Linked DNA regions of Homo sapiens: region 2 is linked to region 1. The links come from fine-mapping of genetic effects on gene expression. Tissue or cell type: whole blood. Region 1 holds a variant in brackets; the other region holds the start of a gene. All regions are shown on one strand. Distances are from middle to middle. Region 1 overlaps SLC39A11 (solute carrier family 39 member 11). Region 2 holds the start of SLC39A11 (solute carrier family 39 member 11).

Evidence for each region. PIP is the estimated chance that this variant, and not a neighbour inherited with it, causes the effect.
Region 2: SLC39A11 starts here. The variant in region 1 is fine-mapped to the expression of SLC39A11 in whole blood (TOPMed, PIP 0.95).

Annotation. Positions count from the first base shown.
Region 1 is chr17:73,056,956-73,062,332 of GRCh38, forward strand. All of the region lies in intron 3 of SLC39A11 (solute carrier family 39 member 11), which reads right to left. Among named protein-coding and RNA genes, the nearest start is that of SLC39A11, 33 kb to the right of the region's middle. The variant C/T (reference allele first, on the strand shown) is at 2,460.
Region 2 is chr17:73,089,863-73,095,239 of GRCh38, forward strand. SLC39A11 (solute carrier family 39 member 11) reads right to left here and starts at 2,826. Exons shown (of 10, transcript NM_139177.4): 1 at 2,749-2,826. RefSeq lists enhancers at 1-283, 284-784 and a silencer at 1,755-1,986.

The sequences.
Region 1 (5,377 bases):
GATGCATTTTTTTTCTTTTCCTGAGACACAGTCTTGCTCTGTCACCAAGGCTGGAGTGCAGCGGTATGATTTCAACTCACTGCAACCTCTGCCTCCTGAGCTCAATTGATCCTCCCTGCCTCAGCCTCCTGAGTACAGGCACCTGCAACCATGCCCAGTTAATTTTTTGTGGGAGATGTATATACATGTATATCAAGATGGGGTTTCGCCATGTTGTCCAGGCTGGTCTTGAACTCCTGGGCTCAAGCCACGCACCCGCCTTGTCCTCCCAAAGTGCTGGGATTACAGCAGGGGCCGCTGCACCTGGCCAGGATGCACTTTTAACTGGTTTGCAGGGGCATCTAAATGATTAAATGAATCAAACATTGCCTCTTTTAATAGATTCTTTATAAAAGGCAAATAGAAAGCTTAAGTGACTCATTGATGAGAAAAAATATTTTATGTTGACTGACAATTCTGACCGCACCTTTTCTCTATCTTTCTATCCTCCTCTGCCTAGTCTGAATTTACTTTTTCTCTTAGTAACCTTCCAATCTTAAAAACAAAAACAAATAAAAGTGATTTATAAAAGTTAAGCTCTCAGATCAACGAGGTCTGCTTCTTTAGCCACTTTTATGGTTTGGTGAAAATCTTAAATTCAGCCCTGTTCATAATGGGTTTCCACCTGAATTCAGTAATCTAGTTAGAAAATGCAGGCTGAGGCCAGGCGCGGTGGCTCACGCCTGTAATCCTAGCACTTTGGGAGGCCGAGGCGGGCAGATCACTTGAGGTCAGGAGTACGAGACCAGCCTGGCGAACATGGTGAAACCCTGTCTCTACAAAAATACGAAAATTAGCCGGGAACATTGGTAGGTGCCTGTAGTCCCAGCTACTTGGGAGGCTGACGCACAAGAATCGCTTGAACCCCAGAGATGGAGGTTGCAGTGAGCCAAGATCGTGCCACTGCACTCCAGCCTGGGGGACAGAGCAAGACTCTATCTCCAAAAAAAGAAAACACAGGCTGGCTTGGGAAGCTGCCTATCTTTAGTTATTTTAGTTATTTCGTTTTAGACTCTTTTTTTTTTTTTTTTTTGTAAAAGAAATTTACTTCTGTGGGAAAAGTCTCCATTTGTGGGGTGTGTCCCTCTTTGCACCCTAAATCACTAGAAACTTTCAAAATGGAGAAGGTCAAGACTTAACTTTGTTTCACAGGCCTTGCCTTTCACCATTTTGTCTTCACCAGGCTTGCGTGTTTGTTTGTCTTGGCAAATAATACTATTTTGGCCTGAAATCTGGTTATCAGGCTAGCTGACAATCCCTGGGGGCAATAATGAGTAATCGAAGTGTCCTCTGATTTAACCCCCTTGCTAGAATGAAAACAGTCGGGGGATAAAGAAAATATCCGCAGAGTAAATGCGGAAAAGATAGATAGGTCCTTGGAAGAATGGATGATGGGCCAGCTGGGGTGGCCTTCTGATCTCGTCTCCTGTGATAGGAGTTAATCTTGGCCGGGTGCAGTGGCTGACATATGTAACCCCAGCACTTTTGCAGGCCCAGACGGGCAGATCACCTGAGGTCAGGAGTTTGAGACCAGCCTGGCCAACATGGCGAAACCCCCTCTCTACTAAAAATACAACAATTAGCCAGGCATGGTAGCAGGCACCTGTAATACCAGCTCCTAGGGAGAAAGAGGCAAGAGAATTGCTTGAACCTGGGAGGTGGAGGTTGCAGTGAGTCGAGATCGCACCACTGCACTCCAGCCTGGCTGACAGAGCGAAACTCTGTCTCAAAAAAATAAAAAAGGGTTAATCTTCAGAAGACTGACGCAGTTGAGTTCCTTTTGTAGGATCTGTCTTTTGGCAGATGAAAGAGAACTCAGGAGGCCTTGCCCTGTGTTTTGCCTTCAACTCAAAGTAATTAATATACCAAAAATGTGACTACCAAAGCAACACATTTTGGGGTGGCATTCCCTGAATGCTTTCAATGGCTAGTTTTGTTTAGTGAGCAATTAAATAATAACTGTTAAAAAAAAAAGAATAAATTAGGTGAATATGGACAGCATAAAAGTTTATAAATGAATTTGTCATTGTTTCAAAAATCTTTTGCAGCAATTTGGAATTTTAAAGTAATAGATATTTATAAAATGTCTGAGTCATTTCTTAGTTAAAATACTAGAACATTAACTGCTAAACATAAGTTTCAAGTATAAATACTTTGGCATCTTGGTTTTGTACAATATAGAGAAGCTGAATATATTTGGGTTTGTTCATAAACATGAAAACATTGTTCTAGGAGGAAGCACATATTTCTAGAAATTACAAATGTATATTCATGAAATGTTAGTATATAACAGTTTAAAATTGTTTTACTTCTTATGTTTTCACTAGAAATTGAGGTTAGTAACAGTTTAAAATTCTAATCAATATAAGCTAGTGAAAACTGGAAATAAGCCCAGGCATAGTGGCTCACGCCTGTAATCC[C/T]AGCACTTTGGGGAGGCTGAGGCAGGCAGATCACCTGAGGTCAGGAGTTCGAGACCAGCCTGACCAACACGGTGAACCCCTGTCTCCACAAAAAATACAAAAATTAGCCGGGCATGGGGGCGGCTGCCACCTCAGGAGGCTGAGACAGGAGAATCACTTGAACCTGGGAAGCTGAGGTTACAGTAAGCCGAGATCGCGCCATTGCACTCCAGCCTGGGCGACAAGACTGAAACTGTCTCCAAAAAAAAAAAAAAACTGGAAATAATATGGGAAACAACTCCATATGCAAGGAAAAAAAAGATATGTTTTTGTTAAGTGAAGCTATGAGGTATGAAATATGTGTCTTTGTTAAGGAAAAAAAGAGTAATTTTCACCCTAACGTAGAATGACAGGTTGCCCCAAAATGAGAAAGAGGGAAGGTATAGATAGGATAAATAAAAAACTGATGGAATATAAGAAGGTTGTAGGAGGTTTGTGGACGGTGAATCATGTGAAAGAAATTTTATTGTGATCAGCAGGGCGTGGTGACTCACCCCTGTAATCCCAGCACTTTGGGAGGCTGAGGCAGGTGGATCACCTGAGGTCAGGAGTTCAAGACCAGCCTGGCCAACATGGTGAAACCTGTCTGTACTAAAAATACAAAAATCGGCCAAGCATGGTGGTGGGTGCCTGTAATCCCAGCTACCTGGGAGGCTAAGGCAGGAGAATTCGCCTGAAGCCGGGAGGCAGAAGTTGCAGTGAGCCGAGATCACGCCACTGCACTCCAGCCTGGGCAACAAGAATGAAACTCCATCTCAAAAAAAAAAAAAAAAAAAAGAAAGAAAAAAGAAAAAAAAAGAAAACAAGGTAAAAAAAAAAAAGTTGGGGGGTTTCTTTACCTTTTAGGAAACTGGCAAAGGAAATGAAGACTGCGTTCTACCAAAATAACTTTTTGTCCTTCACGTTGTCTTTATCAGGTTTTTGATAACTATAGAAAACTATTAAAGAGCTAAGGTTTTTCCTCCAAATATGTTGCTTTTTATATTCACCTTTGAAGTCTTTATCACTCTGGTTAAATTAATGACTATTATTTCATAGTTACTTGTGATCCCATTTTGATGAAATGTTTTAAACCTTGGTGATATTTAAACCAAAATCAAACTCTAAATTTAGTCTTTCTGACCAAGAATTAACTTTGGGATTCTCTTGCTGGGCCCTGAGAAAGCCTCAAAGGATACATCTCTCACCTTGTAAAGGGGAGATATTATACGAATTAGGCTTATTTAGTATACTAAATTATATGGGAAGTACTGTCAAATAATAAGTAATGCTGAACCTTCTTTGAATTTTACTCATATGTGTTCTAGAAAATTGTTTACAATTTTTAGAAATTTGATACGTGATCAGCCATAATTTCAGTTATTATGTTAAATGGTTGTATTCCACAGAAACAACTAAATTTCCTTGTCAATTGTGTCATTATTGAATGAAATTTCAACAGCTCTTTAACCATGGACATTTTAAGTCCTGTCACTCACAGACGGTTGTTTGCTCGGTACTTTCCTAAGCAACTATAAGCCTATATAGTTTTGTCTTCAAGGAGGCTCACGGAAAAGATTCTGACAAGTACAGGTTTGTGATTACTTTAAGATCGTATCATTAAACTGGGTAAGAATTCTCAGAACTCACCGAGCGTGGTGGCTCATGCCTGTAATCCCAGCACTTTGGGAGGCCAAGGCAGGCAGATCCCAAGGTCAGGAGTTCGAGACCAACCTGGCCAACATGGTGAAACCCCGTCTCTACTGAAAATACAAAAATTAGCCGGGAGTGGTAGCAGGTACCTGTAGTCCCAGCTACTCAGGAGACTGAGGCCAGAGAACCGTTTCAACCCAGAAGGCAGAGGTTGCAGTGAGCTGAGATTGCACCACTGCACTCCAGCTTGGGCAACAGGGCAAGACTCTGTCTCAAGGAAAAAAAAATTCTCAGAACTCGTATGAAGAAACTCACTGGTTCATAAAACTGTTAACCCACCATCAAAAGAACAAGAATTACTTAAATGCTAAGTCAGATTTTCATGCTAAGTCAGTTGATTGTGAAATTGTTAAGATATAGAAGCTGAATGAACTCCCTAAGATTTATCCAAGTCAAATCACCTATGATGACCTATTCATTGGACAGGGTTATGCATCTTAATTGGAGAAATAAAACTTGTACTTGAAAGGATGTAAATTCAACATTAAGCGTAGACTCATAGAGGGCTTAGACAACTACTTGGTCTTTTCTGAGTCCTTAAAGCTTCCATTATTAAAAGTTCTGTGCAGGCTGGGCAAGTGGCTCATGCCTACAATCTCAGCACTTTGGGAGGCCAAGGCGAGTGAATTGCTTCTGCTCAGGAGTTCAAGACTAGCCTAGGCAACATGGTGAAACCCCATCTCTACAAAAAAACACGAAAATTAGCCGGGTGTAGTGGCCCAAGCCTGTGGTCCCAGCTACTCAGGGGGCTAAGGTGGGAGGATCACTTGAGACCAAGAGGTCAATGCTGCAGTGACCTCGTGTGATCACGTCACTGCACTCCAGCCTGGGTGACAGACTGAAACCCTGCCTCAAAACAAAACAAAAAAAATCCTCTGTTCCATGACTCTTCATACCACAGACAAAATGAAACAAATTATGGAAAAATAATGGTGTGGCGACTGTTCTAGAATTACTAGGATGGTTTGTAACCAGTGAGTGCTTAGTTTGTCAAACTCATAATCCTGGAAAGACAATCAAAACTTCAGATGAGGCCGGGCGCAGTAGTTCATACCTGTAATCCCAGCACTTTGGGAGGCTTAGGCAGGCAGATCACATGAGCTCACAAGTTCGAGACCACCCTGGGCAACATAGCAAAACCCCATCTCTATAAAAAAAAATACAAAAATTGGGTGTAGTGATGCATG
Region 2 (5,377 bases), 33 kb after region 1:
AGAACCTCCTCCAGACTTTAACATGCTTAAAATTCTGGATCTGAGATGACAATCAGATCTCTCCCTGTGGAAAGTTACAAGGCAGAGAAACCCATTTGTTGAAAAGCCCTGTGTTCTGGTACACAAACACTGGGCTCAGGGCCTCATATCAAAGCCTCATTCATCTCCCTGATGGTCTGCCAGCACCCAGAGGGCTGGCTGGACACAACCACACTGGGCTCAGCCCTGCCAGTTCCCGGTGCTCTGTGAGGAGCCAGCAGCCCTGAGCCTGCAGATCAAGAGCTGAAGACGCTGCCTCGATTGACCCTGGAAGGAAACCATGGCAGAGTGTGGACGCAGCCCTTATGCCAAGCGGCTCAGCAACACACCCAGGCTCAAACCTAGGAAGGGTATAGGTCCAGGTGAGCCCAGGTGAGCCCTGGCTCAGCCCCTGTGCCAGAAACTCTGAGATAAATAGCATCTATGGAATCAGACTCTAGTTCCCGCACTCTAAACGAACTGCACCAACTGTGAAAACTGTGACCACGCCAATTAAAGAAAAAAAAAATCATTTTCAAAAAACTACTACCCTTTACATCCGTCATCTTGCTAAGCCACCCTAAAAAGAGGGGTTGGTCTTTGTTTTTAAACCAAGCCATCTGGACCATTACACCAATCATCTATTCCGAGTTGCTGTGGACAAAATTTCAAACAGCATTTACAAAGAACAGCACAAAGGGATCATCCTCTTAGTACTTATCATCCAAGACAGGGCATAACAAAAACACCTTTCTTTCCTGTATTTGAATGTGCCTCTTGACAGCTACAGAAGAGAGCAAACAATTTACATTTGCCAACAGGCCAAAGTCAATGTGGATCTTGTGGGCTGGTGAACAGAACAGAGGGAGCTCGTGGGTGTTCCTGGTGGTTAGTGGGATAGGGAAACACCCGTCTAAGCCTGTCCCCATGTATATCTGAGCACCCTCCTGAGTAAGAAAAAGGGACACAGAGGGAAGACCGAGGCCACCATCCTTTCCATCCCAACAGGAGCAGCATTGATCACGGGCAATGCAAGCCCAGTGCCCCTCGGAGAAGTTTCTTCTCTATTTGCTGTTTTAAATCCTCGCTACAAGGGTGGTCAGAGAACCAGCAGCACTGGTCCGGCTTGGGAGCTAGTTAGGAATGCAGAAACTCAGGTCTCACCCCAGACTTTCTGAATCAGGGTCTGCATTTTGTGGAATTCCATGGGGGATTCTTATGCACATTAAACTGTGGAAAGCAAAAGATTAAAACTGGTAAAACTTGGCCAGGCGCAGTGGCTCATGCCTGTAATCCCAGCACCTTGGGAGGCCAAGACGGGCAGATCACCTGAGGTCAGGAGTTCGAGACCAGCCTGGCCAACACGGTGAAACCCCATCTCTACTAAAAACACAAAAATTACTTGGGCGTCGTGGTGTGTGCCTGTAGTCCCAGTGCCTGTAGTCCCAGCTACTCGGGAGGCTGAGGCAGGAGTAATCGCTTGAACCCGGGAGGCGGAGGTTGCAGTGAGCCGAGATCGCGCCACTGCACTCCAGTCCGGGTGACAGAGCAAGGCTCTGTCTCAAAAAAAAATAAAAATAAATAAATAAATAAAACTGGTAAAACTTCTACAATACCAAGAGCTTAGAAAATGAGTTCTCCTGCCCCATGTGGGATTGGCAAGAGCAAAGAAGAGTCCCAAAAGAACAGAAAGTTTTCTGCAGAGTCTCAAGAGAAGAAAAAGTTTCTGGCAGAGTCCCAAGAGAACAAGAAGTTTTCTCTAACCGGCAGACCAGTAACAACTTTAGGACACAGCATCTCCATCACAGCTTACACAATGGGGCTCAGAATTCCTCACGATGGGGATATTAATTCCATCAACCCTGATTCGTTAGCAGCAGGGAGAATCATTCTCTGACCGTTCCAACTTTTAACATGCCAACAGCCTGTAGACTTGTACACACCTGCCACAGCAGCACATGGGCATTCCCGGCTGATTGATACAGGTTTGTTTTCTTTATTTCCTTTCTCCCCCTTTTAAACCTGTTGTTCCGCTTCCAAGAGTCAGTTCAAGAGGCTGGTGAAGTTGCAGAAGTGGAAACAGCACTAGGGCTGCTGGGCCTTAGTGGAGCTGCACACACATGCCCTAACTCCACGAGGGGGAATCCAGCAGAAGGATTCAGGTCTGGGCGGAGAGGACTGTGGAAAAGTTCTCTAATGCCTCGCTACTCAAAGCGTGGTCCGCGGACCACCCAACCTGGGAATTAGTTAGAAATGCACACTGTCACGCCCCACCCAGACCTGCTGCAAGTTAACCAGATTCCCAGTCAAGTTCCAGAGGTCCAGCTAACAGCCAGAGCAAGTGGGAGGGGCCTGGGAGCAGCTGGATTTGTAGCTGCCTCTGCTCCCAGGAATCCCGGGTACCCCCACACACCGCCTAGGAAGGGACGAACGAAGAGGATTTGGGTTAGGACTGTAAAAGGAAGGCATGTCATTGCCTTCCAGATCACCCTGGAGAGGGACATAGCCGGGGTCCGGGGACTTCCTTCCCACCGCCCCTCACCCTCCCACCCCGCCCCGACACCTGCCAAAGCCTCCAATTTCTCCTCCAAACCCCTCCTCTCTCCAGGCGTACCCCCTTCCAAGCTCCAGGTGGCTGCCCTTCCAAGTCCCACACTCTTGTCCTGATGGCCTCCGACCCCGGGCCTCGAGCCCAACCAAAGGCACCGAAGGAGAGAAAAGCCAACTCACTAGGGTGCCCTCTCCAGCCCCCACTGCACTTCCATCAGCCCCCGCTGCCACTCTCTCGCCGGCTCCACTCCCGCAGTCACTTCCTGCTTCCCTCCCGCACACGTGGCCCTCCCGCCTCCGGGCCCCGCCCCCTTGGCCGCAACTGGCAACTCCCGCCTGAAGAATAGATTCTCTGGTTCACAGCCGTCTGCAGGCTCAGGAACAGATCTGGGCGGGCAGAACAGAGCCCTGAGGCCAAGAGCCCAGCAGTCTGCGAGTGACTGCAGCCCTAAGGGAAGCTACAAACACCCAAGGAAAGAGCCCTTTGTAACACCCCTGATGTTACTTATGCTTCTACACCTTTGGCAGCCAGGTCCATGCCACTGGGTGCGCAGCAGAGCAGGATGTGCTGTGTGTGTGTTGCGGGAGAGGCTGGGGGCGGGTAATGTGATGGCATCGGCATCATTCTCCAGTCAATGACCCTCAAAAGAATCACTGGAGGGGGTCAAACACAAAATGCCAGCACCCCCAGAGGCTCTGGTTCCGTCATTCTGGGTGGGGCTGACATTTTGGGATTTTTTTGTTTTTGCTTTTGTTTTTTTGAGATGGAGTCTCGCTCTTTCGCCCAGGCTGGAGTGCCGTGGCCCAATCTCGGGTGATTGCAGCCTCTGCCTCCTATGTTCAAGCGATTCTCCTGCTTCAGCCTCCCGAGTAGCTGGGATCACAGGTGCATGCTGCCAAGCCCCGCTAATTTTTGTTTTTTTTTTTTTTTTTTTTTTTTTTTAGTAGGGACGGGGTTTCACCACGTTGCCCAGGCTGGCCTCGAACCCCTGACCTCAAATGATCCACTCGTGTGGGCCTCCCAAAGTGCTGGATTATAGGCATGAGCCACCGCGCCTGGCCTGAGATCTTGTTTTGAGCTAGGAGTTGCTGATGCTGCTGTCCTGGGACCACCCTTTGAAAAGCACTGCCCTAGGTCAAAGGCTTTGATCTGCAGGATTTCTGTGAAAAGACCAGAGGATAGGATTGACTAGATTTAGCCAAAAACAAAACAAAATAAATAAATAGATAGAAACAAGATGCCTGGGCTGGGCGCTGTGGCTCACGCCTATAATCCCAGCACTTTGGGAGGCCGAGGCGGGCAGATCACAACGTCTGGAGATCGAGACCATCCTGGCTAATACGGTGAAACCCCGTCTCTACTAAAAATACAAAAAATTAGCTGGGCGTGGTGGCAGGCGCCTGTAGTCCCAGCTACTCGGGAGTCTGAGGCAGGAGAATGGCGTGAACCCGAGAGGCCGAGCTTGCAGTGAGCCAAGATCACGCCACTGCACTCCAGCCTGGGCAACAGAGCAAAACTCCATCTCAAAAAAAAAAAAAAAAGCCTGATTAAATTTGAATTTCAGAAAAATAACGTCATTTATTACTATAAATATGCCCCGGGCAATGTGTGGGACATACTTATGTTACAGGCATATTTGTTGTTGATCTGAAACTGAAACCCAGCTGAGTGTCCTGTGTTTTATTTGACAACATATCAGAGCGTGACCTGAGCAGAAAAGCTACCCGTGGTCTCGATGGCCATAGCCCAAAGGGTCCAATAACAGGCCTCTTTCTTCCAGTGGAACTAGGTTGTTCACACTGACGGTCGCACCATATACCAAGCACTCCATGGGGAGGAGAAGACAGCCTGGCCACTGGAGGGTGGTCTTTGCCCTTAAAAGACCCCCAACTTGGAAGAGTCAAATCAGCCATTGCAATTCCACATAAGAGAGTATGTACAGGCACACAGAGACACAATACCCATGTGGCACGGCCCATCAACTCATCTTCCAAAATGTCATACCTCTTCCTGCACGCTGCAATAGCCATAAAATGACACAATATCTTAGACTCACTTCAAAATATGATGGAAGAGAAAAGTGGATGGAGTAGAGATTAAACAAAATTGGCCATGAATTAACCATTCTTAGGCTGGGCATGGTGGTTCACACCTGTAATCCCAGCACTTTGGGAGGACAAGGTGGGCAGATTGTTTGAGCCCAAGAGTTTGAGACCGGCCTGGGCAAAAAAGCAAGATCTCGTCGCTACAAAAAGTTTTTAAAAAGTAGCTGGACATGGTGGCAGATGGTAGCTGGGCCTGTAGTCCCAGCTACTAGGGAGGCTGAGTGGGGAGGATCACTTGAGCCCAGGAGTTTGAGGCTGCAGTGAGCCGTAATGGTGCCACTGCACTCCAGTGAAAGACCCTGTCTCTTAAAAATAAAAAATTAACCATTGTTGAACCTGGGGAACGGGCACGTAGAGGTTCATTAAATGTTTCTGTTTCTACTTTTGTGGATGCTTAAATTCTTTTCTTTTTTTTTGAGACGGAGTCTCGCCCTGTCACCCAGGCTGGAGTGCAGTGGTGCAATCTCGGCTCGCTGCACCCTCCACCTCCCAGGTTCAAGTGATTCTCCTGCCTCAGCTGGCCTCCCAATTAGCTGGGACTACAGGTGCGTGCCACCACACCCAGCTAATTTTTTGTATTTTTAGTAGAGACGGGGTTTTGCCATGTTGGCCAGGCTGGTCTCAACCTCCTGAGCTCAAGCAATCCACCTGCCTCAGCCTCCCAAAATGCTAGGATTACAGGAGTGAGACACTGCGCCCAGCC